Regions from separate parts of the Homo sapiens genome. Here regions 1, 3 and 4 are each reported to be linked to region 2. Evidence: microRNA targets listed by miRTarBase, many of them from high-throughput screens and not tested one by one. Region 2 holds a microRNA gene; each other region holds the end of a gene's coding sequence.
What was found. Region 2 holds the annotated microRNA hsa-miR-6780b-5p (UGGGGAAGGCUUGGCAGGGAAGA, at 4,271-4,293, opposite strand). A microRNA usually pairs through its seed, bases 2 to 8, with sites in the 3' UTR of a target mRNA and lowers its output. Matches are read on the target gene's strand: a 7mer-m8 pairs with bases 2 to 8, a 7mer-A1 pairs with bases 2 to 7 and ends in A, and an 8mer does both.

Region 1 (7,590 bases), not on the chromosome of region 2:
TGCCTACCAACAAGCCTGGCTAATTTTTTGTATTTTTTAGTAGAGACGGGGTTTCACCATGTTGCCCAGGCTGGTCTTGAACTCCTGAGCTCAGGCAATTCACCCGCCTTGGCCTCCCAAAGTGCTAGGATTACAGGCATGAGCCACCGCACCCAGCCCAGTTGTGGATATTTTCAGCGATTGTATACACTCATCGCTCACTGGCCCCACAGCCAGCTCTCTCTAATGAATGCATTGAGGCAGGTTGGCTCACAGCCCAGTCTGCCATGTACTACATCTTTGGGGCCTCAGTTTCCTCACCTGCAAGCTGGGCCTATTAGTTCCCACGCTGGGGCTGCTGTGAGGACCAGATATGCTAACCCATGCGGTTCCCTGTTTAGTAAAGGTTGGTCACTGCTGTTCTGTTCTTCCGCTCGCCTGCAGGCAGTCAGCCTTGCAGAACTGAGTCCCGGAGCCCGTGGAAATTGTGGACGAGTCCTTGTGAGTAATCAGGAGGGGTCTTTCAGGAGAGTCTCTCCGAGAGTTTTGTGATCCAAGGATGTTAAGAAACAGCCATTTAGGCTGGGCGAAGTGGCTCACACTTGTAATCCCAGCACTTTGGGAGGCCGAGGAGGGTGGATCGCTTGAGCCCAGGAGTTTAAGACCAGCCTGGGCAATATGGTGAAACCCTGTCTCTACCAAAAGTACAAAAAAATTAGCCAGGCGTGGTGGCGCATGCCTGTAATTCCAGCTACTTGGGAGGCTGAGGCAGGAGAATGGCTTGAACTCAGGAGGCGGATGTTGCAGTGAGCCAAGATTGTGCCACTGCACTCCAGCCTGGGCGACAGAGTGAGACTCCATCTCAAAAAAAATTATCTATTTATTTATTATTTATCTATTTTTTGAGACGGAGTCTCACTCTGTCACCTAGGCTGGAGTGCAGTGGTGGGATCTCAGCTCACTGCAAGCTCCGCCTCCCGGGTTCACACCATTCTCCTGCCTCAGCCTCCTGAGTAGCTGGGACTACAGGCACCAGTCACCACGCCCGGCTAATTTTTTTGTATTTTTAGTAGAGACGGGGTTTCACTGTGTTAGCTAGGATGGTCTCGATCTCCTGACCTCATGATCCGCCTGCCTCGGCCTCCCAAAGTGCTGGGATTACAGGCATGAGCCACCCCGCCCAGCCAAAATTTTTTTTTTTTTTAAGAAACAGCTGTTTTCCTATAGTGCTTTATTTCACACGTGGAGGGAGTAGTTCTAGAGCTAGGAAAGGGGATGGTCCATCCCTCTGAGACCCCAGATATCAATTTCCCACCCACATACAACCCCAGGGGGCCCATTGCCATGGCTCATGCCTGTAATCCCACCACTTTGGGAGGCTGATGCGGGAGGACTGCTATAGGCCAGTGAGACCCCTGTCTCTACAAAAAATAAAAATAAAACAATAAAAATTAGCCAAGTGAGGTGGTATGCACCTACTCAGAAGGCTGTGCCAGGAGGATCCTTTGAGCCCAGGAGTTCGAGGCTTTAGTGAGCTGTGATTGCACCACTGCACTCCAGCCTGGGTGACCCAGTGAGACCTTCTCTCTCTCTGTCTGTCTGTCTGCCTCTCTCTCTCTCTAAGACAAGGTCTGGCTGTATCGCCCAGGCTGAAGTGCAAGCAGTGGTGCAATCTCAGCTCACTGCAACCTCCATCTCCTGGGCTCAAGCAATCCTCTCATCTCAGCCTCCCCAGTAGCTGGGATCACAGACGCACACCACCACACCCAGCTAATTTTTTTTTTTTTTTTGTAAAGACCGGATTTCGACATTTTGGCCAGGCTAGTCTCGAACTTCTGACCTTAGGTGATCCACCTGCCTCTGCCTCCCAAAGTGCTGGCATTACAGGAGCAAGCCACTGTGCTGGGCCGAGACCCTGTGTCCTAAAAACAACCAAAAAATAAACAAACAAAACACTTCCAGGGGCCTGCAGAGAAACAGGGTGCATCACCCCGGTCCAGCCGCCACAACCACCCACCTGGACTCACAGCAGTTGCCTCCTCGCTGCGCTTGGTTTCCACCCTTACCCCTCGTCTATTCCCGCAAACAGCCACCAGAGGGTGCTGGGGAACCTAAGTTCGCTCAGGGCCCTCCTGAAGCTCCCGTCTCAGTGTAACAGCGAAATCATCCCCATGGAGGACACGGTCCCGCACGATGAGGTGCCCTTTGTTCCCCCTCGGACCTCACCTCCAGACCTCTCCCCATCACTTATGGGCTGCAGCCGCATTGGCTTTTTCGCTGTTCCTCGACACTCCAGGCAGGCTCCTGCCACAGGGCCTTTGCACTGGCGGTTCCCTCTGCCTTGGATGCTCTTCCCTGAGAGCTCTCCTGTGGCTTCCTCCCTCTTTTCCTGCATGTCTCTGCTCAAATATCACCTCCTCAAAGAATCTTTCCCTTCCCACCTGATCCCGAGGGCCCTGATGTGCAGTTGGGCAGGTTGTTCACTGCACAAGGCACTCACTGAATGGGTGAGAGGGGACTGGAGCCCAGCTCATGCTCTGCTCTTCAAATTCTGGGCCCAGGAGAGAGGGGTGCCCTTTTCTAGTTCACACAAAGGCATACTAGGGCCTGACAGCTGTCTTGCCCACTTGCGGAGTCCTAATTAGGGAGAGTCAGGCTGCTGAGAATGCAGGAAAGCAAAAAGATAAAGCAGCTAAGTTACAGGTCTGCCTTTCTTTACTGTCCAGGACATAGCCCTCCTATACAAATAACTCAATCTTCCTGCGCCCAAGTATCACCAGACACCTGCAAGTGAGCTCACTGTAACCCTGGCATTATCAGTACTGCACAAAGCCCTCTTCAGCACACAACATGAACTCTCCTATATGCCGGGCATGGTGGCTCACGCCTGTAATCCCAGCACTTTGGGAGGCAGAGGCAGACGGATCACTTGAGGTCAGGAGTTCGAGACCAGCCTGGCCAACATGGTGAAACCCCATCTCGACTAAAAATACAAAAATTAGCTGGGCATGGTGATGGGTGCCTGTAATCCCAGCTACTCAGGAGGCTGAGGCAGGAGAATTGCTTGAACCCGAGATGCGGAGGTTGCAGTGAGCTGAAATCATGCCACTGCACTCCAGCCTGGGTGACAGAGCGAGACTCTATCTAAAAAGCAAATGAAAAAACCAACTCCATCCTATACAACCCCCAGCAAGCCTTTGTTTCCTTGCAGTCAGCTTCTCCCTGGCTGTGTTGCCCATTGCAACTTTGCAATATATTTTCCTACTTTATTTCATAAATCTGCCTTTTTTTTTTTTTTGATGGAGTCTCACTCTGTTGCCCAGGCTGGAGTGCAGTGGTGCAGTCTTGGCTCACTGTAACCTCTGCCTCCTGGGCTGAAGTGATCCTCCCAGTTCCCAAGTAGCTGAGACTACAGGTGTGCATCACCACGCCCTGCTAATTTTGTATTTTTATTTATTTATTACCTTTTTTCGATGGAGTTTCACTCTTGTTACCCAGGCTGGAGTGCAATGACGCGATCTCAACTCACTGCAACCTCTGCCTCCTGGGTTCAAGTGATTCTCTTGCCTCAGCCTCCTGAGTAGCTGGGATTACAGGTGCCTGCCGCCACACCTGGCTAATTTTTGTATTTTTTAGTAGAGGCAGGGTTTTGCCAAGTTGGCCAGGCTGGTCTCAAGCTCCTGACCTCAGGTCATTTACCCACCTCAGCCTCCCGAAGTGCTGGGATTACAGGCGTGAGCCACTGCACCTAGCCAATTTTTGTATTTTTAGTAGAGATGGGGTTTCACTGTTAGTCAGGCTGGTCTTGAACTCCTGACCTCAAGTGATCCGCCCACCTCCCAAAGAGTTGGGATTACAGGCGTGAGCCCATAAATCTGCTTTTTTTTTTTTTTTTTTAACCTACCACTGTCTTGGTAAATTCTTTTACCCCCACACCACCAGCCCAGATAATTGTCACTCACTTGTGACACCCACCTCCTTACCCTGCATTACGGATTGAGTTGTTCTGTCCTCTCAAAATATAGGCTGATGTCCTAACCCTAGTGCCTGTGAATGTAATTTTATTTGGAATCAGGGTCTGTGATCTGAAGAAAGCTAGAAGGGCTGGGCGCGGTGGTTCACGCCTGTAATACCAGCACTTTGGGAGGCTGAGGCCGGTGGATCATGCCATCAGGAGATTGAGACCATCCTGGCTAACACAGTGAAACTCCGTCTCTACTAAAAATACAAAAAATCAGCTGGGCGTGGTGGCACATGCTTGTAGTCCCAGTTACTCGGGAGGCTGAGGCAGGAGAATCACTTAAACCCTGGAGGCAGAGATTGCAGTGAGCTGAGATCGTGCCACTGCACTCCAGCCTGGGCGACAGAGCAAGACATCTGTCTCAAAAAAAGAAAAAGAAAAAGAAAGCTAGAAGAAAAAAAAAAGGGAATCAGGATCTTTGCAGATATGATTAAGTTATGACAAGGGCATACTGGTAGGATGGGCAAAACTCCAATATGACTGATGCCCTTAGAAGAGAAGAGATACAGTGGGAAGTCAGCCAGAGATTGGACTGATTCAGCCACAAGCCAAGGAGAACCTGGGGCCACCAGAAACTGGCAGAGACAAGGAAGGATCCTTCCCTAGCACCTCTGGAGTGGGCATGGCCCTGATGCCACCTTGTTTTCAGACTTCAGGCCTCTAGGGCTGTGGGAGAATAAATATCTGTTGTTTTAAGCTGCCCTATTTGGGGCATTTTGTTATAGCAGCTTGAGGGGACTAATACACCTAGCATGATTTTTTTTCTTCTTTTTTTTTGTTGGTCGGGGGATAGAGTCTCACTCTGTTGCCCAGGCTGGAGTGTCAGTCTCGTCTCACTGCAACCTCCATCTCCTGGGTTCAGGCGATTCTCCTGCCTCAGCCTCTGAAGAAGCTGGGACTACAGGCGTGTGCCACCATGCCAGCTAATTTTTGTATATATATATATTTTTTATAAGTAGAGATGGGGTTTCACTATGTTGGCCAGGCAGGTCTCGAACTCCTGACCTCAGGTGACCCACTCGATTTGGCCTCCCAAAGTGCTGGGATTACAGGTGTGAGCCACCGTGCCTGGCCTGATTCTTCTTTATATGGGCATCTGACACTGTATACATTTACAGTGGACCCTCACTATTTGCAAATGCCATATTTGTGCATTTATCTGCTCATCAAAACTTCTTTGTAACCCCCAAGTCAAGACTCTCAACACACACACGGCAGCAAAATATCAAGTTGCCCAACACAGACGTTCGTTCCCAGCTGAGGTTGAATAAGGCGACATTCTGCCCTCGTTTTGGCTCTCGTACCATAAACACGCGTCCTTTTCTTGGTTTATCTAGTCCCACGCTTTTCACATTTTTGTGCTTTTTGTTGGTGACTCATTGTTTAAAATGGGCCCAAGCGTACAGCTGAAGTGCGGTCTAGTGACCTTAAAGCACCAAGAAGCTGTGATGTGCCTTTGGAGAAAAGATAAAATATATGTGTGAAATAGGCTTGCTCCAGGTTCCAGTTATAATGCTGTTGGCATGACTTCAATGTGAATGAATCAACAATATAAATGAAATAAGGTATCTTTAGGGCTGGGCGTGGTGGCTCACGTCTGTATTCCCAGCACTTTGAGAGGCCAAGGCCAGAGGATCACTCGAGCCGTGGAGTTCCAGACCAGCTTGGGCAACATAGTGAGATCCCATTGCTACAGAAAGATTAAAAAAAAAAATAGCTAAGCGTGGTGGTGCGCCTATAATCCCAGCTACTCGGGAGGCTGAGGTGGGAGGATCACTTGAGCCTGGGAGATCAAGGCTGCAGTGAGCCACGATCGTGCCACTGCACTCCAGCCTGGGTGACAGAGTGAGCCCGTCTCAAAAATACATAAAGAAGTGTTTTTAAACAGCAACACATGTAAACTAAGGTGATGTATTGACTGAACTGTGGTGATCAGAGGCCCTTAGAAACCTAACCCTGTCTCCCTGGGGGCAATGGCTCAGTATTCACTAATTCTCAGAGTGTATGCAGAGATTATAGAACCTTACCGGAAATAAGAAGAACTGGCTTGATCTGGCTTAGCTGTTTACCACCCGCCTTCCCCACTAACAAGTCAGCTTACCGGCTTAGCAGGGACTCTTGTCTGCCTTGTTCATGTTGAACCCCCTGAGCCTAGAACGGGGCCTGGTACTCAGCAGGTGCTCAACAGATGCATGCGGAAGAAGGCCTCACAATCCCAGATCCAAACACTCCCCCACCCTCACAAACCCAAAAGCAATGGGCCAAGGGGGCATGAGTACAGTTTTAAAAAAAGGATCGGTTTTTAATTTACAAGAGTTCTAAATGTACAGAATTCTCCTTTAAAAAAATCGTTATACACAATAAATACAGTACAAAAAAATTTATCTTACAGTACTAGTTTTGTCTCCGAGATTTCAAAATCTGGCGCGGGCGGCTGGAGGCAGGAAGAACAGAGGGAAGACTAGCTGGGGAGAGGTTCGGGGGAGAGGAAGACCCCAGTTTCTTGTTTTGCTCAGATTTCAAAGTCGAGGGGTGGGCGTTCGAAATCTCTCACTCACTTGTGCACACACACACACACACAGGTCACGGAGCTGGACGTGCGGATGTCACACGGGTGCCTGCGGGCACAGCACGCTGGGAGGCTGGCTCCCCCACCCCCTCTCCGGTTTTGTTTGACAGCCTGTTGGGGGCGGCGGGGAGAGGCTGAGACTGTCTGGAAGGACCCTGCCAGCTCCCAGCACCCTCCACCATCTGAGAAGCCACACAGACAAGACAGGCACCCGGAGCGTTGGCATCAACCCGGTGGCCCCATCCCTGGCAAACACATGCGCGTGTCCCCCGGACAGAGGGGCAGAGTGTGCCAGGAAATGGGAAGAAACAGGAACTGACACAGCACTTTGCCCCTCCTTTGGCAGGGGAGACGTTTTACATCACAGCCCCCTCCCTAAATCCACGCCCACCCCCCAGCAACCCAGCTGAAGCAGGCGGCAGGGAAGGAGGCCTTTGTGACTCAAATAACTTAGGCAAGAAAAACCGTCAGGGGATCCCCGGCTCGAGTCCCCAGGAGGCTGAGGGCGGACACCCGACTGTCCCGGCGTCTTCGGGAGGAGGGGACGGGGAAGGGGAGGCGGCCCGGTGTTATCTGGTCAACGTCCTGGCGCCGAGGCCACCGTTGTGACTGGAGGGTGGGTAGGCCTCGGGCCTGTGCAGGGGCGGCGGGGATGCGGGGGTGCCGGCCGAGGCAGCGTGGGGGTACGAGGGCGCGGGCGTCCGGCCGGGGGCCTGCTGCAGGTTCAGGATGCTGTCGATGGCGCTCTGCAGGTGCTCGGTGAGCGTGTCATCCTGCGGGCTGTCGCTGGAGAAGCTGGCCTGGTCCACGTCGGGCGACTCGGACTTGCGCCGCTTGGCAGGGGGCAGCCCGGGCGCCTCCCAGTCGGGGTCCCCGGTGCCTTGGGCGGCGCTGGCTGCGGGCTCTGGCGGGGGGCCCTTCAGCATACGCTGGTACAGCTCGTCCTCCACGGCCGCCAGCTCGCGGATGAGCCCGCTGGTGGCCTCGTCCACTTTGGCGGGCAGCGGCGCCGGGCTGCCTC
Region 2 (7,691 bases):
CTGGAGAAACAGGCAGCTAAGAGGTTTCAAGGCCAGGCACTCACACTGAGGTCATCATTGAGGGCGCAGGCTTCTAGCACCTCCTTGTACAGCTGTGCATCAAATGTCTTCCCAAAGAGGATGTTGTCTCGGATGGTGGCAAACTGGATCCAGGGTTCCTGGGTGGCCAGGCCAAAGCCCTTGGACAGCCCCCGCACTGCCACATGCCCACGCAGCCTGCAGAGAGCCAGGCGAGCAATATGAGGACCAGCTCTCCTCTGGGTCCCTCCATGCCCAGCCCTTGACTCCTAGAAGCCTCCCCAGGCTGCTGTCTTCTACACAGGGTCCCCCTTCATGTCACATGACTGAGATGGCAGCTCCTGAGGTCAAGGGGTCCTAATGAAGCCCATTCTGGGCGAAGAAGGGAAGAAATAGCTCTTTGGCTACAGCCAAGCAGCTGTTGTACTTACATCTGTTCAGGAGCTCAGTGGAGAGTATGGCCACCACATTGTACTTGTTCCCATCTGAAAACAAGGTCCTCCCTCAAACCTATGCTCCTCTCTGGATCCCTTCTCTGCACAGCCACATTTCTGAAAGAATAGCTGACACTGGATGTTTCCATTCCTTTGCTGACTATTATAGCATTTAAAACACTCTGGTGTAATGATTACAATGATTCGCTTTCTTGGCCACCTCCTTCTTTCCAGATTGAAAACTCTCCCAATAAAGGGACCATGCGTTGCTCTTCTTAGTACCCCTGACCCCCAAAAGGTGTCCAACACATAAGAGGGGCTCAGTGTTTGCTAAAGGACAAAGTAAGGACAGGGGTGCATAGGAGGTTGGTTACCTGTGGAGCTCTCCAGCGATGGCAGCCAGCAGGGAGCTCTTCCCACAGCCGACCTTCCCCACGATGCCCACCAGCATACCCTGCAAGGAAGCCACACAAGCATCTGCTATTGGTAGGAGACAGGACAGAGGTGGCAGTGGTCTCCCTCTTGACACTCTGGGCTGCCAGTCCTCCCACTGAGGCTTCTCTTTTCTTCTTTCTTTAGTGTGTAGGGAAAGAATTCTCCGCTTCACAGGCTGATCAACAAATCAGGCTCTAGAAAAGTAGGGTGTTTTTTTCTCCACTCAGAGTGGCTATCAGTTTCACTGTCTATGTGAAGGGCCTCTGAAGGGGAGCAGCATGCCAGAGAGAATGGGAGGAAACCACCCAAGAACTTCCAAGGTAAACTCTGAGACAGGCACTCCAGAACGGGAGAGGGAAGGGTAGAATTCCAGGCTTTAGGGCCTGGATGATGGGTTGGCTAAGTCGACCTGTGGCTAGAGTTACCATATCTCAGGGGAAAAAGCAGAGCTTTGCATAGATCCCTATTTCTGTGGCTTAAATTTTTCTGTTTACCTTTTTTTTTTTTTTTTTTTTTTTTGGTCATATGTTCATGGAGCTATCTCCCTGCTCAAAAAAATATAAAAAAAAAAAAGTCCTAGTTCCTTCTCTAGAAGGGACTGGGCTCTCAGAAGCTCTATCTGCCTGTGATGCCCCAACCCTGCCAGCCAGGGTTGACCCAGCTACAAGTGGGCACCACTTCTGAGACCTTTCCATGGGAATTTGGGATCAGGTCCCAGAGGCAGCTTCTCCTTGTTGGCTGTAACTTGTAAACTCGAGCATTCTCTGTAGTCACATCTTCTGCTCAGTGGAGGGTGTGTCCACAGAGAGAAGAGAACCAGGCAAATACAGGGAGAGAGGCACACAGAAGCAGAGAGCTCTGCGAGTTGAGGCCTGGTTCTGGGCTGTTTCTAAGATCCAGCTGCGTTCCTGCCTTTGGATTCTGCAATGTATCTCTACATCCTTATTATAAATTCTTGTTTGCTTAAGCTAGCTCTAGTGTGTTTCTGTAACTTATACCCAAAAAAGCCCCAACTAACACATTAGCAAAATTCCTTTGTACAAATCTAGCCTTGTCTTGCCTGAACTAAGAGGAAAAACAAAACATACAGCCCAAGCCAGAAACGTGAGCCAAATGTGGTGGAGGCAATTCAGCCACCACCAGAGAATGCCGGGTTGAGCTGTGGGGCACAGGGTTGGACAAAGGTCAGGAGAGAGTGAAAACTCAGAACAGGAGGTGAACAGGAGTTGGCTTATTGCCAGGAATGCCCCATTTTAAGTTCTTTGTATGCTGTAGCATGAGTCACAGGGTGTGATTGCTTTTCACCAGCCTAAACAGAGGATCCCCATTTGCAAAATATTTCTTGGAAGCACTTGCTGGGCCTCTCCCCCAGATCCCCAATCTGGGGGAGATGCTACATAAACCCCAGGGCCTGTTCTGAATGCTGCAGCTTCTGAGGGACATGGAGAGACAAGCACACCCATTGGTCTGGACTGGATGGATACAAGCTGCCTAAAGACCAGAGAGAGGTGCAACTATTCTGAGATTCAGATGTGAGGTGTCATCTCCTCATGATTAGAACCTGCTCACCAAATGCCTATCCCTCCTGCAGCAATTAGAGCTGCAGAGCCATCAGCTATGATTGGCTCGGTCACTGCTTCTCTGACATGAGTTCCCATCTCTCTCGTTAGTCTGAGGACTCTCCCAGGGTGTCTGTCCAACAAACCTTTTTCACTTCGAGATGACTGATGAAGGTCTCCAGGCTGGTTCCAACTGGGTCCCAGGAGAACAAGGCTCCATGCAGCTCCAATACTGTAGATGGCTCTGCAGGGGGATCTGAACAGAGAAGCCACTTGATTTGGGCTCCTAATCTACCACAATCTGTTTGGGGAGGGTAAATCATGTAATTCACTTGCCAGCCCCATATCTACCTGCCCAAAGCTAAATGAGTCTGTTTTGGATTCCGCTCTCTCTAAGCCCTCTTGGTGACATCTATGCGCAGCACCCAAGTGGCTCCACTTCCCTCCTCACCCTGTGCCAGGTTCTGCCCACTAGCTTCCCATTACCTGGGCTGTAGTAGGCCTGGGGGTTGTGGTTTGGAAGGTCGAGGAAAAGCTGGATCCGGTCCAAGGACACTTTGGCCTCCAGGAGACCATTGATCACCCAAGGGAAGTTGTTGAGAGGAAGAATGAGCATTCGCACCAGTGCCAGGGCCGTGAACACCTGAGTGAGGTGGGTGCAGGGTGAAGCCCCAGGAGTTATCTAAGGGCCTGTTTCTATGGGAAGCCCTGTGGACAGGTCTACGGAGGGAAGAACTGGGCAATGACAGAACTGAAGGGCTGGCTGGCCAATCCTGGGATCAGATGTGGCAGAGATGGTCACTTAAAGAATCCTAGAAATTCCAATGTTCCTCAAGGGATTCAGGTTGCATTTTTTTTTTTCTTGACGAGTCTTGCTCTGTCACCTAAGCTGGAGTGCAGTGGCATAATCTCGGCTCACTGCAACTTCCACCTCCAGGGTTCAAGTGATTCTCCTACCCTAGCCTCCTGAGTAGCTGGGATCACAGGCATGCATCACCACACCTGGTTAATTTTTATATTTTTAGTAGAGACAAGGTTTCACCATGTTGGTCAGGCTGGTCTCGAACTCCTGACATCAGGTGATCCGCCTGCCTTGGCCTCCCAAAGTGCTGGAATTACAGGTGTGAGCCACCACGCCTGGCCAAGGTTGCATCTTTTTAACTAGGCAGGCCTAGCTCATTTTGAGTCTTTTTTTTAGAATTTCCAAGTAGCAACATCACCTGGCCTTGGCTAGACCCAGGATTGCATCATACATTTTTTTCCTAAGGCCATTAGAACGAGGATGAAGAGACCTAACCCCAAGCCTGGAACTGAATAGAAGCTGGAGTGAAAGGTAGAGGAGAGGAAAGAAAGGAACTCCTTCACAGAGGGGAGGGTTATATATCCAAGGCCCCCACAAAAAGGTTTCTTCAGTTTTCCCTTGGTTGAGAGATGAGGCAGTCAGGGATCCCTCCCTCCTTCTCAGCCAGCACTGAGGGCCCAAGCCTCTGTCTTCACTTCGCTGAAGTCTCCTTGATGCTGGTCCCCTTCCTTCCTGGTCCTCACCTTGGTGGCAGTGAGCTGGTGCCCCATGAGGACATAGGTGATGAAGATAACGATGGAGATGACAACCGGTAGGGCAGCCCACAGGTATACACAGGCCGCATCCAGGTATTTGATGACCCGGAGTCGCCCCAGCTCTCGAGCCCGGCAGGCCTCTACTCGGGCTCCCAGTGCCTGCTCCCACCCGCAGAACTTGATGACCCGAATGCCACTCAGCAGCTCTGTCACAAGCTAGGGAAAGGAGACAAGGGAGAGGCGTGAAGTGGAGGCACTGCTCATGTGTCTTCCCTGCCAAGCCTTCCCCAGGCTGCTGGCAGAATGTTCAGTACTCTAAGCTCCCAGATACTCTGCACTGCCCTAGTCTTGGTTTTCTTCCTCACCTCAGTACTTTCTGGAAATCCTGCCCTTCAAATCCTTTTCAGCCCTGGGTTGCTTCCCCTCCCAGTCTCTTACTTCTCCATTTGCTCCAGCTGGGGACAGCTTGGAGTGGGAATTCCCCACCTTCCTAGGAGGAGTGGTGGAAGGTGGAGCCAGGTCACCACAGTGGAGTAAAAGCTCTCCTCCCATTAGATGAGGGACAAAGGGCTATCTCCCAAAACCAAAAGATGTGGGCTTCGGGGGCTGGCCCCCCAGTTCCGGCCCCCGGCTTGAGTGGCACAGAAACTATTCCTGTAGAAGTACACAGGCATAAGAGGCCACACTACAGCCCAGGGTCAAACAGGCTAATGGGCCCAGGGAAGATGGGCAAGGGCCAAAACTCCTCGTCTGTAGCTGTCACAGGTAGGGGAAAATGCCTCATGCCATAACCATCTATCAACCTCCCTTCCCTCCAGGAGCACTCTGAGCTGTTCCACTAAGGGTCGACAACTATGCTGTATGAACCCCCAGGACTGCCATCCCCTTTGTGAAGGTACCCACAATCACTGCAGAACCCAGAGCTCTGCAGATTCAGCCAAACCCTAAACACCTGGAGTTGACCCAGGCAGGAAAGTGACCTATTCCCTTCCCCTCAGCCTACCCAAAGAGGCAGCTGAGGTTCTCCTAGGTCTCTACATGCAGCCATGGGGTGGTCTGTGCCCTAGATAAGGAGGTTGGAGACTTGGGTCCCAGCTCTGGCCCTAAAGACCTGTTTGGAGCCAGACAGATGACTTCCTACCTCCCAGGGTGGCCACATGTATTCAGAGCTTACTTTGTGACTGGCACTACACTAAGCATTATCTCATGAGATCCTTACAACTCTACAAGGTAAGCTACTACTATTCTCACTTTACAGATGAGGAAGGGGAAGCCCAAATAGGTTAAGTGACTTGTCTGAAGTGATTGAACCAGTAAGTGTAGAGCCAGGATTTGAACCCAGGTCTACCTTTCTCCAGTCTCAGCTCTTAACTTTGAGGTCACTCTCACTCCCTCAGGTAGTGTGCATGGGAAGACCTGGGGACCTGGGCTGGGTGGGGTCTCCAGATAGCTGAGGGACCCCAAGTACCCGCTCACCTTAACCCGCGCATCCTTGTGCTGTAGCATTTCCTGGTTGCTGGCCATGATGCGGGTGGCAATCACTTTGTTGACGGGTACCAGCAGCAGTGCCAAGATGAGACCACCCACGAAGGCCACGCCTACCTGCTGGTACAGCAGGTAGAGGGTGATGGCCAGTTGCAGGGGCAGGCCCCAGGCTTCATGGAAGCTCCCAGCAAAGTTAAGCAGCCGTTCAGAGTCAGTGCCTAGTAGGTTCAGGGCCTCCCCAGTAGGAGGGCGGCTGGGCCCCAGCTGTAAAGCCTTGCAGTACAGGATGTTCAGCACAGCCCCCCGTGCCTGAAGTGTTACCTTATATACCTCATACCCATACTGATTCTGCAGCACAGCACCCAGCACAGCCCCACCGGCTAGCCCCAGAGCATAGAGCAGGCCGTGGCTTAGTGGCTCCTGCCCCTCTTCCAGGAAGCCCACCAGTAGGGAGAGCAACAGGGGCCCTGAGAATCCCAACATGGTCCCCACCAGCTTCAGCAGTCCAAGTGCCAGATAGCACCGTCCAAAGGCCCCATACAAGGCCCTCCACAGCCGTGCCCCCTCCTGCCAGTGTGCCTGGAAGACACGAGCCAGGTAGGTTGGCTGCAGTCTGTGGGGGAGGCGGCAAATGTCCTGAGGCTGCCGGAGCTCTCCACAGGCCCCACGGGCCAGCAAGGGTGCCAGCCAGGCATAGGAAAAGCGTGACAGCCAACTCTCCCCATCTTCAGCCACCTCAGGTTCTTGATCCTCGGGCAGGAGGGGCTCCTGAGCCCAGGGTTCTCGTGGTCCCCCAGGAGCTGCCCATCCCAGTGCATAGGCCAAGAGTGCAGCCAGCTGCAGGATGAGCAAGCATAGGCGGGCCATGGGCCCTGGGAGAAGTGGGGGCAGAAGTGTGCCTCGCTGGCAATGCCACAACACGGTCAGCACTAGGGCTGGAGCTGGCAGCAAGGCTACCAGGGCCAAGGCCAAGGGACCCCGGGAGTGGCCATGAGGGGAATGTGCCAACACCCACAGGGCCAGGCTGTGGCTGATCCAGGCCACAGCTGCCACGCACCCTGCCAACACCTCTAGCCCTATGGGTCCTGGGCCTGCCCCTGGTGGCAAAGCAACTGGAAGAAGGTCTAGCAGCGGGAAGACGGAAAGCAGGAAGGAAGCTGCAAGTCGGAGGCGCCATCCAGGACTGCAGGGTAGGATGTAATCTGGACTCCTGGGGACAAGGGGGAAGACAAGGAGGCACATCGTGGCTGACTCAGGAGCCAGACATACCCCTCACCTCCAATAATTCACTTACCTAAGGAATCAACTCCCTTCCTGCCTTGCACATCTTATCCCTACTCCACTTTACCTCAGAACCCAGGGTCTTTTCTCCCAGGAAGTCTTCCCAGATGAACCTAACTCATTTTCTGACCAACTGAGCTAACCGGCCACCTGAACCTAACTCATTTTCTAAACTACCCACACCATTTCTGATTCATGTTTTTTTTTAAACCACAGACATTAACAATTTTGAGGTAAGATTGTACTTAACATGAAGACTAACTAGGAAAAAAAAAATCCTGGGTACTACGTTTGCTACTTTGGTGATGGGATCATTAGAAGCCCAAACTTCAGCATCACATAATATATCCATGTATAATAACAAACAAGCACATATGCCTCATGAATCTAAAATTTTAAAAAAAATCCAGGCTGGGCGCCGTGGCTCACGCCTGTAATCCTAGCACTTTGGGAGGCTGAGACGGGAGGATCGCCTGAGGTTAGGAGTTCGAGACCAGCCTGGCCAACATGGTGAAACCCCCATCTTTACCAAAAATGCAAAAATTAGCCAGGCATGGTGGCAGGCACCTGCAATCCCAGCTACTCAGGAGGCTGAGGCAGGAGAATCGCTTGAATCTGGGAGATGGAGGTTGCAGTGAGCTGAGATCACGCCAATGCACTCCAGCCTGGGTGACAGGGGAAGACTCCGTCTCAGGAAAAAAAAGAAAATCCAAAGTTTTCATGCAGATAACTGATAAAGGGTACATATTCATTTTTACAAAAGGATCCACCTAACAGTACCCTTAAATTCACCTGAAGCACTATTAAATGAATAAAAATCGGACTTACATACAGCTTTTATATTCTAATATGGTAGCCTAAACTTTATAAAGGCTTGGAATATTCTACTCTCTTTCCACTGATTATAGAAGGTGGTGTGGAT
Region 3 (7,691 bases), not on the chromosome of region 2:
CAAATGTTACTTCTAACAACAGCCTTTGAATTTGTGAGAACTCAGTGCTGGGTCCCCGTCCCAGCAGCGTGAAGCTCACACGGGAGTTGGAAAGAGTCCAGGGTTCCACACTGGCCTGCTGAAGATCCCGAGTGTCATGTTTTTGAGGTTTTTTTTAAGAAACAGAGTTGGCTGGGTGCGGTGGCTCACGCCTGTAATCCCAGCACTTTGGGAGGCCAAGGCGGGTGGATCACCTGAGGCCAGGAGTTCTAGACCAGCCTGGCCAACATGGTAAAACCCCATCTCTACTAAAAATACAAAAATTAGCCAGGCCTGGTGGCAGGCACCTGTAATCCCAGCTACTCCAGGGGTTGAGGCAGGAGAATTGCCTGAACCCGGGAGGTGGAGGTTGTAGTGAGCCGAGATTGCGCCTTTGCACTCCAGCCTGGGGGACAAGAGTGAGACTTCGTCTCAAAAAAAAAAAAAAAAAAAAAAAAAGGCCGGGTGGCTCACACCTGTAATCCCAGCACTTTGGGAGGCTAAGGTGGGCGGATCACGAGGTCAGGAGATTGAGACCATCCTGGCTAACATGGTGAAACCCCATCTCTACTAAAAACACAAAAAATTAGCCAGTGTGGTGGCGGGCACCTGTAGTCCCAGCTACTCGGGAGACTGAGGCAGGAGAATGGCGTGAACCTGGGAGGCGGAGCTTGCAGTGAGCCGAGAATAGCGCCACTGCACTCCAGCCTGGGCTAAAGAGCAAGACTCCATCTCAAAAAAAAAAAAAAAAAAAAAGGGTCTCAGCCAGGCACAGTGGCTCATGCCTATAATCCCAGCACTTTGGGAGGCTAAGGTGGCGGATCACGAGGTCAGGAGTTAAAGACCAGCCTGGCCAACATAGTGAAACCGCTGTCTCTACTAAAAAATACAAAAATCAGCTGGGCGTGGTGGTGAGCGCCTGTAGTCCCAGATACTTGGGGAGGTAAGGTGGGAGGATCACTTGAGCCTGGGAGGTTGAGGCTGCAGTGAGCCGAGATTGCACCACTGCACTTAAGAGCCTGAACAACAGAGTGAGACCCTGTTTTAAAAAAACAAAAACAAGGCTGGGCACGGTGGCTCATGACTGTTATTCCAGCACTTTGGTAGGCCAAGGCAGGTGGATCACCTGAGGTCAGGAATTCAAGACCAGCCTGGCCAACATGGTGAAACCCCGTCTCTACTAAAAGTACAAAAATTAGTCAGGCATAGTGGCAGGCACCTGTAATCCCAGCTAGTAAGGAGGCTGAGGCAGGAGAATAGCTTGAACCTGGGAGGCAGAGGTTGCAGTAAGCCGAGATCGTGCCACACTGCACTCCAGCCTGGGTGACAAGAGCGAGACTCCGTCTCAAAAAACAAAAACAAAAAACCTATGGCTTTCACATGTTTCCTTTTCTAAATGAGGTCCTGAGTATGTGGGACTACAGGCACAAACCATTGCACCTCGCTAATTTTTTTTGGTTTTTGTTTTTTTTGGTAGAGATGAGGTCTTACTATGTTGCCCAGGCTGATTTTGAACTCCTGGCTTCAAGCAGTTCTCCTGCTTCAGCCTTCCAAAGTGCTGGGATTTCAGGCGTGAGCTGTCCTACCTAATTTTGTCCAGCCTAACTTTTTTTTTTTTTTTTATTTTGGAGATGAGGTCTGGCTATGGTGCCCATGCTATTCCCAATCTCCTGGCCTCAAGCAATACAGTCACCTCAGCCTCCCAAGTAGCTGAGACTGTAGCCCGAACTGCCAAACCTTGCATCACACCCTCCTGTCTCTCTCTTTTTTTTTTTTTTCTGAGACACGGTCTCCATCTGTTGCCTCAGCTGGAGGGCAGATGATGGCTCACTGCAACCTCCACCTCCTGGCTCAAGTAATCCTCCCACCTTCAGCCTCCCAAGTAGCTGGGACTACAGGTGTGTGCCACCATGCCCAGCTAATTTTTTTAATTTTTAGTAGAGATGGGGTTTTGCCCTGTTGCCCAGGCTGGTCTGGAACTCCTGACCTCAAAGAATTCATCTGCCTCGGCCTCCTAAAGTGCTAGAATTACAGGTGTGAGCCACAGCTCCTGGTACATCACACTCTATCCTCAGGTTCAAGTGTCTCTGCCTGGCATCCAGTGTCTTCCAGGACCAGATCCCATCTCCCATGGTCTATCCCAGGCTTCCTGGTCAGCTCAGAGTTCCCAGAATATGAAATCTCCAGGCCTTTCACTTGGAATGTCCTCCATGGCTTGATTATCTGACTGGAGATCCTTTAAAGACTTGCTTTACTTCCTTGAATGCTTGTTCCTCCTCCTTGTCACAATAACACAGTCTATAACATCAGTAACCCAGTATGTAACATCATCCACCAGAAGCAATCATAATAGACGGTCTACATTCATTGAGTGATAATTGTGTGCCACACTTTCTAAGCATTTTATTTGACATCCCCCCCATTGGAGGTGGAGTCTATGATGCCTCTCCTTGAATATGAGCTGGCTTCAGTGACTCACTGTAGTGAATAAAAAGTGAGAGATGTCACACTGTGTGAGTTCCAAGGTTAAGTCATCAGAACTGAAACAGATCCCACCTGGCTTGCTCTCTTGGGATATTTCCCTTAGACCGTAGCTGCCATGTTGAGAGGAAGCCCAAGCCACAGAGAGGCCATGTGCAGATATTCTGGCCAACAGCCCCAGCAGAAGTTCAAGGCAACAGCCAACACCAACTACCAGATATGTGAGCAAGGAAGCCTTCAACGTGATTCCAGCCCCAGCCACTGTGTCTGCAAGTATATGACAGATCTTCAGGAAGAACTGCCAAGCTGAACCAAGTCAAACCCCAGAACCATGAAAGATAGTAACTTTTTTTTTTTTTTTTGAGATGGAGTCTCGCTCTGTCACCCAGGCTGGAGTGTAATGGCGTGATCTCGGCTCACTGAAACCTCTGCTTCCTGGGTTCAAGCAATTATCCTGCCTCAGCCTCCTGAGTAGCTGGGATTACAGGCATGCGCCACCACACCCGGCTAATTTTCTGTATTTTTAGTATAGATGGAGTTTCACCATGTTGGTTAGGCTGGTCTCGAACTCCTGACCTCGTGATCCACCTGCCTCGGCCTCCTAAAGTGCTGGTTGTTGTTTCTTTTTTTTTGTTTTGTTTTTTGAGACGGAGTCTGGCTCTGTTACCCAGGTTGGGGCGCAGTGGCATGATCTCGGCTCACTGCAACCTCTGCCTTATGGGTTCAAGTGATTCTCCAGCCTCAGCCTCCTGAGTAGCTGGGATTACAGGCACGCACCACCATGCCCAGCTAATTTTTTATTTTTAGTAGAGACAGGGTTTCACCATGTTGGCCAGGCTGGTCTTGAACCCCTGACCTCAGGTGATCTGCCCGCCTCGGCCTCCCAACGTGCTGGGCTTACAGGCATGAGCCACTGCACTCAGCCGATAATGACTTTTTTTTCTGAGATGGAGTCTTGCTTTGTCGCCCAGGCTGGAGTGCAGTAGTGTGATCTCAGCTGACTAAAACCTCTGCCTCCCAGGTTCATGCCATTCTCCTGCCTCAGCCTCCCAAGTAGCTGGGACTACGGGTGCCTGCCACAATGCCCGACTAATTTTTTGTATTTTTAGTAGAGACGGGGTTTCACCATGTCAGCCAGGATGGTCTCGATATCCTGGCCTTGCGATCCGCCCGCCTTGGACTCCCAAAGTGCTGGGCTTACAGGCATGAGCCACCACGCCCAGCCTAGTGACCTTTTTTTCATCACTATATTGGAATTGTTTGGTATGCAGTGTTAGATAAGCAGAAAAACTTGCACTAACTCACTGAATTCTCCTTTCTCAATCCTGTGAAAGGAATGCATTTCCGTTTTATTTTATTTATTTTATTGTAATTTTTCTTTTTGAGACAAGGTCTCACCCTGTTACCCAGGCTGGAGTGCAGTGGTACTGTCTCAGGTCACCACAACCTCCACCTCCTGGGTTCGAGTGATTATCCTACCGCAGCCTCCCAAGAAACTGGGATTATAGGCATGTGCCACCACAGCTGGCTAATTTTTTTTTTTTTTTTTTTGAGACAGATCCTTGCTCTGTCACCCAGGCTGGAATGCAATGGCACGTTCTCTGCTCACTGCAACCTCCACCTCCCAGGTTCAAGCGATTCTTCTGCCTCAGCCTCCTGAGTAGCTGGGATTACAGGTGCGCCCCACCATGCCTGGCTAATTTTTGTATTTTTTAGTAGAGATGGGGTTTCTCCATGTTGGTCATGCTGGTCTTGAACTCTTGATCTCGTGATCTGCCCGCCTTGGCCTCCCAAAGTGCTGGGATTACAGGCATGAGCCATCGCACCCGGCTGCCTGGCTAATTTTTGTACTTTTGGTAGAGACGGAGTTTCGCCATGTTGGCCAGGCTGGTCTCGAACTCCTGGCCTCAAGTGAATGAACCACCTGCCTCGGCCTCCCAAAGTGCTGGGATTACAGGCATGAGACACCGTGCCTGGCCCACATTCCCATTTTAAAGATGAAGAAACTGAGGCTCAATCTGGGCAACGTGTGAAACCGAAGTTACAGCATAAGTAAGTGGTAGAGCTGGGTTGTGAACACAGGTGGACGCTACACGGGGTCATTCCCACCAAATTCTGTAGTCTGTACATGTATAATATGGGGTCTTGGGCAGGAATGGTGACTTGTGTCTGTAATCCCAGCACTTTGGGAGGCCGAGGCAGGTGGATCACCTGAGGTTTCGCCAACATGGTGAAACCCCATCTCTACTAAAAATACAAAAATTATCCAGATGTGGTGGTGTGTGCCTGCAATCCCAGCTACTCTGGAGGCTGAGGCACGAGAAGCACTTGAACCCAGGAGGCTGAGGTTGCAGTAAGCCAAGATTGCACCACTACAATTCAGCCTGGGAGACAAAGCTAGACTCTGTCTCAAAAAAACAAACAAACAAACAAAAAAAACGCCAGGCGTGGTGGCTCACACATGTAATCTTAGTACTTTGGGAGGCCAAGGTGGGTGGATCCCCTGAAGTGAAGAGTTTGAGACCAGCCTGGCCAACATGGTGAAACCCTATCTCTACTAAAAATACAAAAAATTAGCTGGGCTTGGTGGCAGGTGCCTGTAATCCCAGCTACTAGGGAGGCTGAGGCAGGAGAATCACTGGAACCCGGGAGGAGGAGGTTGCAGTGAGCTGAGATCCTGCTATTGCACTCCAACCTGGGCAACAAGAACGAAACTCAGTCTCAAAATAAATAAATAAATAAAAAGCTGGGATCTGGCTTTTGCCCAGGCTGGAGTGTAGTGGCAGGATTATAGCTTACTGTAGCCTCAATGTTCTGGGATCGAGTGATCTTCTTACCTCAGCCTCTCAAGTAGTTGGGAGTACAGCACATACTACCAGGGCCAGCTTGGTATTCTGTGTCTGCATGTCTTATTATTATTATTTTTTTTGAGAGAGAGGCTCTCACTGTGTCACCCAGACTAGAGTACAGTGGTGTGATCGTGGCTCACTGCAGCCCTGAACTGAGCTCAAGCGATCCTCCTGCCTCAGCCTGCTGAGCAGGTAGGAATACAGGCACGGGTCACTACACTGGGCCAATTAAAAATATTCTTTTTCTTTTTCTTTTTTCTTCCTTTCTCTCTCTCTCTTTTTTTTTTTGTGGAGACAGGTTCTCACCGTATTGCGAAGCCTGGTCTTGAACTCCTGGGCTCAAGCAATCCAACCACCTCAGCCTCTCAAATTGCTGGGATTACAGGCATGAGCCTCTGCACCTGGCCTTGAAGTGTGTCTTGAGGCCTATACAAGTTAGGCAGCTTCTTGGCAGCCCTGGTGGCACACAGTGGGAAGGAACCCCTCCTGCCCTTGTCAGCCCCTGTTCTGACCCCCTCTCCATTTCCAACAACTGGGTATTCCCAGTTATGTTGACTGCTCTAGGGCACAGGCTATCTATCATTTACACTCTAGTATGAGTCAGTCACTACTTCTAGGGTCTGAGGATTAGACGTGAGACATCCGTTACTTTCTGGCAATTCTCCTTCCGACTTATTTCCCCAAGAAGCAGCCACACTCGTCACGTGCTCTAGCTGGCGACTTTATTCAAAGGGGAGAGGGAAAAGTGAGAGAGTTGGGTCATTTCTGGGATAACCTGGAGAGGGGTGGGTCTCTGGAGCTCCAGGGAGGAGGGACAGACATCTCAAAACTATTACAGAAGGCCGAGAGGACGAGGGGTGGGGTTCTGGGTGTCCTGAGGGGCGGGGCTGGGGGAAGGGTCGCTCCCCCAACTCAGGGCCACGCGTCCGCTAGGGGCCGCTGCCGCTTCCACTGCCACTCCCGCTGCCCGCAGCGTCCAGGATGGAGGTGCGAGGGCTGCGGGAACGCCGGGAGGGAGCTTCCCGGCCCCGTCGTCCTGGTCTGGGACGAGGTACCGCGGAGATGGAGATGTTGAAGCAGTGACGGGCTCCAGGAGCAGCCACCGGTAGGGCGTGGCCCAGAGCCGAGCGACAAAGGTCCGTCCCGTCTGCGAAGGTCTAGGAAAAAGTGGAGTTAAGGCCCTAGTGGGCGGAGTCCAGAGACGTGGGGGGCGTGGCCTCGGGAAGGGAAAAATGTGTAAATTCCTTAGGGATTGGGGTCAGAGCCGGAGCGTGCGGCCTGGGAGTCTATGTGCGGAACGTGAGTGGGGGCAGGTCCTTGGGGAGGGTGAATGTTCTTACTGGGCCCTAGCGGGATGAATCAGGGTTGGGGCAGTTGGGGGGCGCGCAGAGAGGTCTGTATCAAGGCTGGGGTTTTGTAGAGAGTGACTGGGCTTCTGGGTCCTCCAGGGTAAAATGTGGATGGACCCAGAGCAGGAATGGTTTCTTGGGAAGGGCAAATCTGGACTTCGAGAGCTTTTGGGGTCAAAGGGCACAACCCAGTAGGAGGTTGGGCTAGGGAAGGGTGGGAGCAGGGACCTGGGGAGTACCAATCCGGTCTCTGGGGTCTAGACACGGTAAGAAAGAACTTGGTGGGGGCCGGGGGCGGTGGCTCACACCTGTAATCCCAACACTTTGGGAGGCCGAGGTGGGCGGATCACCTGAGGTCAGGAGTTCGAAACCAGCCTGGCCAACATGGTGAAACGCTGACTCTACTAAAAATACAAAAATTAGCTGGGCATGGTGGCATGCGCCTGAAATCCCAGCTATTCGGGAGGTTGCGGCAGGAGAATCACTTGAACCCCGGAGGCGGAGGTTGCATCGAGCTGAGATCGCGCCACTGCACTCCAGCCTGGGTGACAAGAATGAAACTCCGTCTCAGAAATAAATAAATAAATAAATAAATAACTTGGTGGGGAGGATCTCAGTCTCTTCCCTTCACCTTCTGCCCCACGCTCACCTGTCCATAGGTAAGGCAGCTGGGCTCACAGCCCCTTTTTTCTGAGAGTGGGAGCCAAGTCGGGCCGCAGGTGATATCATCTTCGCAGTTGGCGAACCTGGAGATGGCGAGTGGAGAGGTGGGTAAAGCCTTTGTAGTTACATTCCAGCGCGATTCTGGCTCTTCTAGACTGTGTTCACTATATGCCCCCACCTCGGATCCAGGCCCCGCCTTTTAGAACCACTCCCCTGCTAACTAACCCCATCTCTCCAGATTTCACCCTGCCCCATATTCTATCAGATCTTTCCATACTCTGGGCCACGTCACAACTGGCCTTGTCCCTACAGACCTCAGACCATTAGTTAC
Region 4 (7,691 bases), not on the chromosome of region 2:
GTGATCCTGGACAAGTTATTTATTTTTTTTTAAATTTTTTGAGATGGAGTTTTGCTCTTGTTGCCCAGGCTGGAGTGCAATGGCGCAATCTCGGCTCATTGCAACCTTTGCCTCCCGGGTTCAAGTGATTCTCCTGCCTCAGCCTCCCAAGTAGTTGAGATTACAGGCATGTGCCACCATGCCTGGCTATGTTTTTGCATTTAGTAGAGACGGGATTTCACCATGTTGGTCAGACCGGTCTCGAACTCCTGACCTCAGGTGATCCACCCGCCTCGGCCTCCCAAAGTGCTGGGATTATAGGCGTGCACCCTGTGCCCGGTCGACAAGCTATTTAATGTCACTGTGCCTCTGTTTCCTCATCTGGTCAAGGAAAACAATACCTACAGTCAGATCTGGAATTTGAGGCTGCCCTACTTATAGGTTAATAAATGGGTCTGTTATTGTTTCATGGATGCTGTCAGAAAACAGAGACAAAAGACCTTACTGTTCAGGGCACAACAAGCAGCATGAGCATGCCTGCATTGGTTCCCTTCTGCCCCCTGCAGGGGCAATGTGGGATGTGCCCAGATGGATGCTAGACACACAGTGAGTTGCATCATAGGGGAGGAACAGGAAGCTCCTGCTGTTTTTTTCCTTTTTAAAGATGGGATTTGGCTGGGAGCGGTGGCTCACGCCTGTAATCCCAGCACTTTGGGAGGCCAAGGCAGGCAGATCACCTGAGGTCAGGAGTTCGAGACCAGCCTGACCAACATGGTGAAACCCTGTCTCTACAAAAATACTAAAATTAGCTGGGCATGGTGGCAGGTGAGTGTAATCCCAGCTACTTGGGAGGCTGAGGCAGGAAAGTTGCTTGAACCCAGGAGGTGGAGGTTGCAGTGAGCCAAGATCACGCCACTGCACTCCAGCCTGGGTGACAAGAGTGAGACTCCTTCTCTAAATAAATACATAAATAAATAAGATGGGGTCTTGCTATGTTGGCCAGGGTAGTCTCAAACTCCTGGCCTCAAGCAATCCTCCTGCCTTGGCCACCAAAAGTTCTGGGATTACAGTTGTGAGCCACCATGCCCAGCCATCTGCTGTTTTATAGTAAGCAGTAAGGAAGCTGCTCTTTGTCCTGGATGCAGACATTACCTCTCCCTCAAGGTTTGCTTGCTGCCAACACTCCTGAGAATTGTTCTGGGTAATGAGTGGCAAGGGCTTTGCTTATTTATTTTTATTTATTGGTTATACTTACATTTATGGTTTATTAAAGCAAAACGACACAGATTTAAAATCATCAAAGGGATAAGGTACATGGGACAAAATCCGGATGCAACCGGGCACAAACTTTCAGGTGTCTACTCCCAGTGGGGTATCACAGGGACGTGCTTTTTTCTCCCTGCAATGATTTTTGACAACAGGTGCTGATTGTTCCCAAACAGAGAAGTTCACCCAAGCTTTAGGGTGCAGGGTTTTTTTGTTTGTTTGTTTTGGTTTTTTGTTTGTTTGTTTGTTTGTTTAGATAGTCTTACTTTTGTTGCCCAGGCTGGAGAGCAATGGTGCGATCTCAGCTTACTGCAACCTCCACCTCCCAGGTTCAAGCAATTCTCCTGCCTCAGCCTCCCAAGTAGCTGGGATTACAGGTGTGTGCCACCACCTGGCTAATTTTGTATTTTTAGTAGAGACGGGGTTTCACCACGTTGGCCAGGCTGGTCTCAAACTCCTGACCACAGGTGATCCACCCACCTCGCGCTCCCAAAGTGCTGGGATTACAGACGTGAGCCACCGCGCCCGGCCATGTGTGGGGTTTTTATTGGGGATTAGTCACATAGGCTTGGAGTGTCCATACTACTGATCTCTGCTACTCAGACCCCAGAGCAAAAAACAATGTTCACTATAAATCACACTTAGGATAAACTTATTTGTTCAGACTGGTACAGCATGATGGCATGCTGTATGCCAAGACCTCTGGCATACAAAAACACTAATCAAATAAAATATTCCACGGGCTCAGAAGTTATTTCCCAGGAGCAGACCAAATGCCAGTTCTAAAGATGAGCTTTCTTTGGAATGTGCAGGGTTTGAACAACCTACACCTCCTGAGTTAACCCATTCCTACACACACCTGATCCCATGAGTCCATTGTACCTGGTAAACTAAATTTTGTATCTCTTAGAATTAAAATTAGTTTAGGTCCAATGTCAACAAATCTCTGGAAACTCTAGTTACTTCCCCTTCTCTGATGCTCACAGTAGCAGTAGTCTACATTCACTGAACCCACTTGTTTATTCTTTGGCCCACTGCAGTATTAATAGACACTTGACTGAGCTTTCATGATGTGCCATGTACTGAGTTAAGCACTTTATATACATTCCAATCTAATGTGCTTGCTAAATGGCTGCAGGTACACTTGGAAAAGGCTAGAAGCTCTACAGCATGTTTTTGTCAGTGTAGAACTGACATCAAGTCCTTCATCAAGGGAACCCAGCCTCCCCAGATCTAGAGAAGGGGAGACTCTAGATCTGTGAATAGGCTCAAGTCTGAGAATCTGTTGAAGGCAGGGACTTGCAATTTTTGCCAACTCAACAAGATGTGAAGGCAGGACTTGCCGAGATGGATCGGAAGTCAACATGAGTGGGCACGCTGGTCAATTTGGAGTCACAGCAGGGAGACTCATGGAGGAGTGTCTGTTAACACCTACTTTATAGAGTTCTTGTGAACATTGGATTGGAATGTATATAAAGTGCCTAACACAGTACATGGAACATCATAAAAGCTCAGTCAAGTGGCTATTAATATTGCAGTAGGCCAAAGAATAAACAGAAGTGGATTCAGGCCAGGTGCAGTGGCTCACACCTGTAATCCCAGCAGTTTGGGAAGCTGAGGCAGGCAGATCACTTGAGGTCAGGAGTTTGAGAACAGCCTGGCCAACATGGTGAAACCCCGTCTCTACTAAAAATACAAAAATTAGCTGGGTGTGATAGCATACACCTGCAGTCTCAGCTACTCAGGAGGCTGAGGCACAGAATCACTTGAACCTGGGAGGAGGTGGAGGCTGCAGTGAGCAGAGATCGTGCCACTGCACTCCAGCCTGGGTGACAGAGTGAGGCTCCAGCTCAAAAAAAGAAAGAAAAGAAAAAAGTGGATTCAGTGAATGTAGGCTACTGCTTCAAGGCATTTAGCTGAAAATAATAGGGATCAAGAGAAAAGTTCTTTTTTATTGTTTTAAAGGCAGATCTTAGCATGCTTATAGGCTGGAGTGTCTTTGGGACAAGAAAGGGAATCTGAAACCATAAAACTAGGAGACGAGAAAGTAGGAATAATAGAGCAAAGTCCCTGAGGGGCAGAAGGGGATGAAACCCAGGCCCAGCTGTGTTGCTGAACATTGTATATCCAGGACTTGCTGAGATGGATCAGAAGTAAATATGAGTGGGCACACTGGTCAATTTGGAGTAATGGCAGGGAGCAGAATGTTAAAGAAGCTCCTATTTGACCCCTTGTATTTTCCTAGTGAAAGCGGAGGTATTTACTGGTTAAAAATATATGGAATGGGCAGGGAGCAGTGGCTCACACCTGAATTCCCAGCACTTTGGGAGGCTGAGGCAGGTGGATCATGAAGTCAGGAGATCGAGACCATCCTGGCTAACATGGTGAAATCCTGTCTCAACTAAAAATACCAAAGATCAGCCGGGTGTGGTGGCAGGCACCTGTAGTCCCAGCTACCAGGGAGGCTGAGGCAGGAGAATCACTTGAACCCAGGAGGAGGAGGTTGCAGTGAGCTGAGATCACGCCACTGCATTCCAGCCTGGGCGACAAAGCAAGACTCCATCTCAAAAAAAAAAAAAAAATATATATATATATATGGAATGCTTCTCTGGGCACACTGCCTATAGGGTGGTCCTGCTCTGGACTACCAGAGTATTTATGTACTTATTTATTTATATTTATATTTATACATTTGTATATAAACTATTAGTTTATATCTAACTTTAATTCTATATATATATATATATATGGAAGACATAATATTGTCTTATTACTGTTGTTGCTTTTTAAGTCTTGCTATATTGCCCGGGCTGGTCTCAAACTCCCAGGTCAAACAATCCTCCCGCCTTGGCCTCTCAAAGTGCTGAGATTACAGGCATGAGCCACTGCACCCAGCCCAGAAGACATAATATTGAAGGTTCTACTGAGGTTGAAGGTCAGGAAAGGTATCGTGGCCCCTCTCAGCAGCAATGCAGTGTTTTTCCTCACAGCTCATATCTAGGCATGGAGGCAGATGGGAGATTAACCCAGACTGAGGCTGTGTATTAGTTCATTCTTTTGATTGCAAATAACAGAAACTCAAACCACCTTAAGCGGAAAGGGGAAGTTATTGGAAGGATGCTAGGATCTCTCACTGAATAAGGAACCAGGATCCCAGCTCGGGTGGATTGAAGTGCTTCAGGGAACATAGGAGGTTATCTCCCATTTCTGCTCTCCACAGACCACATAATGGAATTTAGCCATCAGTGGCTACCAAGTTTTATGAATTACAATCCAGTCCCAAAGAAAGTTATACAATTCCTAGCTGAGGAAATCCTTGCGTTCTGGTGGCAAAGGGAAGGGGAAAGAGCCAGCTCTACCAGGGGGCTGGGCAGACCTGGTAATAGGGCTCTGCTGGGCAGGACAGGTCTCCTGGTCTGAAAGTCTGGCTCTCCCATCAGAATAGCAAAGATTGCTACAGAGTCAAGGAACCAGATTGATATTTTGTAAAAAGTAATTCCACAAGGAACAGAATTCATTCATCAGACATTTTAATGAGACCCAATCTGATATGACCCCTTCTTGGGGGTAGCTCATCATCCAAGGAGAAACAAACAGTTACAATGTTACAATGCAACTTGCTAAATATTGAACAGAGGTAATTACATAAAGCTGTGTTCCCCCAGCTGCTCCCCTGCTTGTGCTGAGATCAGGAGAGCTGTAGGAAGGAGCCACAGGGGTAAAGGATGACCCACTCCAGCTGTTGGAATATGAGATGAGTCACATCTGGAAATTCTAATTTGGTGCAGCTGCCCAAGGCAAAGTGGTAGGCCTTGTTCACATTTAACTCGGTAAAGCTTTATGAAGCACCTACCCAGTGGGTGCCATGGAGGTGGATCAGATTGAGCCACGCTGCTGCCACCTCTGTGGAGGGAGGCTGGCATGGATACAACTTGATGACTATAGACTCTTCCTCTCTGGATTCAGTTCCCTCTTTCTAGCCTCCTTGAATGGCCTCAGCTCATTTTGTGAAAAAATGCTGACTGAGGCCTCATGGAAGTTCTGTGCCGATTCTTAGGTGCCTGTGATTCATCTGTGCCTGATGAGAATCAGGGTCAAGTACGGCCCAATTCTCCAGGCTTTTCCAGGCACTGGCTGCCTGAAGCCAATCCAGGTCTGCCAGGTAGAGCACAAGCCAGTCCCATTTGCACTTCCTGCTGCTAAACCACAGGTCCCTGCTTCTCCTTAAGAGCAACCTTCTCCCAGAGCTGACTACACTTATGTCTCATACCCAGCTTGAACCAATTTTCCAAATACAAGATGAAGACTTAGTTTTATAGCTTTTTTTTTTTTTTTTAAGTTTAGGGCATTTATATATCTGCAACCCAATAAACCCCTGGTACCATGCAGCTCCCCCAAATTCAGTGCAACCAAAGCTGCTGAAACAAGTCCAGCCCCAGAAGGTGTAGTGGCACTGTGGTGTTACCTTATTTTTATATGACCCTTCAAAAAGGACACTGAAAACCCAGTGCCTGTTTGCAGAGATCATGTGTGGAAATTGAAACCCTGTCTTTAAGGAATGACCAAATTCATGCTACTTAACCTGAAAACTTGGGGGCAAAGTGGTTGTGATTATCTGAAGGGCTGCTATGTAGATGAAGTATTAAACATGTCGTAGGCAAGGTTTAGAGGAGAATGTGGTACTTAACCTTCTATAGATCCCACAATGAAATGACCTGCCTTGTGAGGTAGTGAGCTCCCTGTCAAGAGAGATTTTCAAGCAATGGGTAGAAGACCACTTGGCAGGAGTGTTGCAAAAAGTGGGCTAAACCAGATTTTTCCAACCTAGTATGGAGGAAGAGGCAGAGTAGGGGAAGGTCCTGCCCCTATGAGATTCTCCTGATTGCATGCAAGATGACAGGTAATCCCTGTGTGGACAGACTAGAAAAGCAGACAGCCCCTAAAATAGATGGGGAGAACTTTTAGCCCTGATATCCACACAAACTATTTTAGGATAGGGTAGCTTGGAAAACTTTAAGCAAATGACGTCACCTCTCCTAATGGGACTGTTCCAGACACGCACAGGGAGGCAGCCAGCGCATTGCAAGATACAAAGTTCAGCTCTGTGCAGCAGGAGACCCGGGTTTAGTTCTGACTCTGCCCTGTATGACCTGGGGCTCCTCCTTCCCTTTTCTGGGACCCTCCATAAAATGAAATGAACGTAGGCAGTCCTTCCCCTTCTAATGGGCGTTGCCCCTCTGACTGGAGCCCCCGATAGCAGATCTAGGGCTACAGTTTGGGGCCTTGGGGCTACACTTGTGGACAGCCAGAGACCACCTCTGGCGGAAGCACCGGCCACACTCGAGGCAGGGGAAAGGCTTCTCCCCCGTGTGCAGCAGCTGGTGCTGGGCCAGGTGGCTCCACTGAGCAAAACGCTTGGAGCAAAGGTCGCAGGCATAGGGCCGCTCGCCCGAGTGCACGCGCCGGTGGCTGGCCAGCAGTGAGGGGTAGGCAAAGCGGCGACCACAGTCGTCGCAGGCGTGCAGCTTCTCCTCTGTGTGCGTGCTGCGATGGATGGCCAGGGAGCCGCTCCGCCGGAAGGCACGCCCACAGTCTGGGCAGGGGTAGGGCTTCTCTCCGGTGTGCAAGAGCTGGTGCTGGAGCAGCGTGCTGCGCTGGGAGAAGCGGGCCTCACAGTGCTCGCAGGCATAGGGACGCTCCCCAGAGTGCACACGCCGGTGACTGACCAGGCGAGAGGAGGAGGAGAAGCGCCGCTCGCAGTCCGGGCACGGGTAGGGCTTCTCGCCCGTGTGGATGCGCTGGTGGATGACGAGGGCCGTGCGCTGGCGGAAGCGGCGGTTGCACTCGAGGCAAGTGTAGGGCTTCTCTCCCGTGTGTGTACGCTGGTGGATGGCTAGCAGGGAGGGGTAGGCGAAGCGACGTCCACAGCTAGGGCACTGGTGGGGTTTTTCACCTGTGTGTGTGGTCCGGTGATTGGCCAAGGACCGGCTCCTCCGGAAGCAGCGACCACAGTCAGGGCAGTGATAGGGCTTCTCCCCTGTATGGATGACCTGGTGCTGGGAGAGGTTCTTGCGCTGGGAGAAACGTTTGCCACACTGGTCACAAACATAGGGGCACTCGCCGGAGTGTGCCCGCCGGTGACTGACCAGCAGGGATGGATAGGAAAAGCGGCGCCCACAGTCTGGGCAAGGGTAAGGCTTTTTTAGATTCTGGGCGCACTTGTGGCTCTCCAGGGCCTGATGATCAGGGAAGGTACAGCCGCAGTCAGGGCAGATGGGGCCCCCGGACGTCTGCCTAGGAATCAGTCGGGGTTTGCTGGGCCTCCGGCCTCGCTTCCCCTTTCGGGGTGCCTCCTTAGGCGGGAATACTTCCTTCTCCCCATTCTTCTTTCTGGTTCTGCTTTCTATAGAAATACAGAAGCATTAATTTAACAAATACTGGGCTCC

Region 1: the mRNA of BICRA is a reported target of hsa-miR-6780b-5p. Seed matches in the 3' UTR shown: 7mer-m8 at 7,116-7,122.
Region 3: the mRNA of RTBDN is a reported target of hsa-miR-6780b-5p. Seed matches in the 3' UTR shown: 7mer-m8 at 6,239-6,245.
Region 4: the mRNA of ZNF689 is a reported target of hsa-miR-6780b-5p. Seed matches in the 3' UTR shown: 7mer-m8 at 6,095-6,101.

What each region holds. Positions count from the first base shown.
Region 1 is chr19:47,701,964-47,709,553 of GRCh38, reverse strand. It overlaps BICRA (BRD4 interacting chromatin remodeling complex associated protein), which reads right to left. Exons shown (of 15, transcript NM_001394372.1): 15 at 6,277-7,590. The coding sequence ends at 7,139. Among named protein-coding and RNA genes, the nearest start is that of EHD2, 7.7 kb to the left of the region's middle.
Region 2 is chr6:43,431,149-43,438,839 of GRCh38, reverse strand. It overlaps MIR6780B (microRNA 6780b), which reads right to left and starts at 4,298; the gene lies at 4,220-4,298. It overlaps ABCC10 (ATP binding cassette subfamily C member 10), which reads right to left. Exons shown (of 22, transcript NM_001198934.2): 3 at 5,480-6,698; 4 at 3,992-4,219; 5 at 2,933-3,089; 6 at 2,593-2,702; 7 at 827-906; 8 at 45-216.
Region 3 is chr19:12,819,429-12,827,119 of GRCh38, forward strand. RTBDN (retbindin) reads right to left here. Exons shown (of 6, transcript NM_001270441.2): 5 at 7,347-7,443; 6 at 6,054-6,505. The coding sequence ends at 6,278. It overlaps RTBDN-AS1 (RTBDN antisense RNA 1), which reads left to right and starts at 6,305. Exons shown (of 3, transcript NR_187779.1): 1 at 6,305-6,484; 2 at 7,357-7,464. RefSeq lists a cis regulatory region at 5,703-6,503 and an enhancer at 6,072-6,848.
Region 4 is chr16:30,597,800-30,605,490 of GRCh38, forward strand. ZNF689 (zinc finger protein 689) reads right to left here. Exons shown (of 3, transcript NM_138447.3): 3 at 4,759-7,648. The coding sequence ends at 6,465. Among named protein-coding and RNA genes, the nearest start is that of ZNF689, 8.7 kb to the right of the region's middle.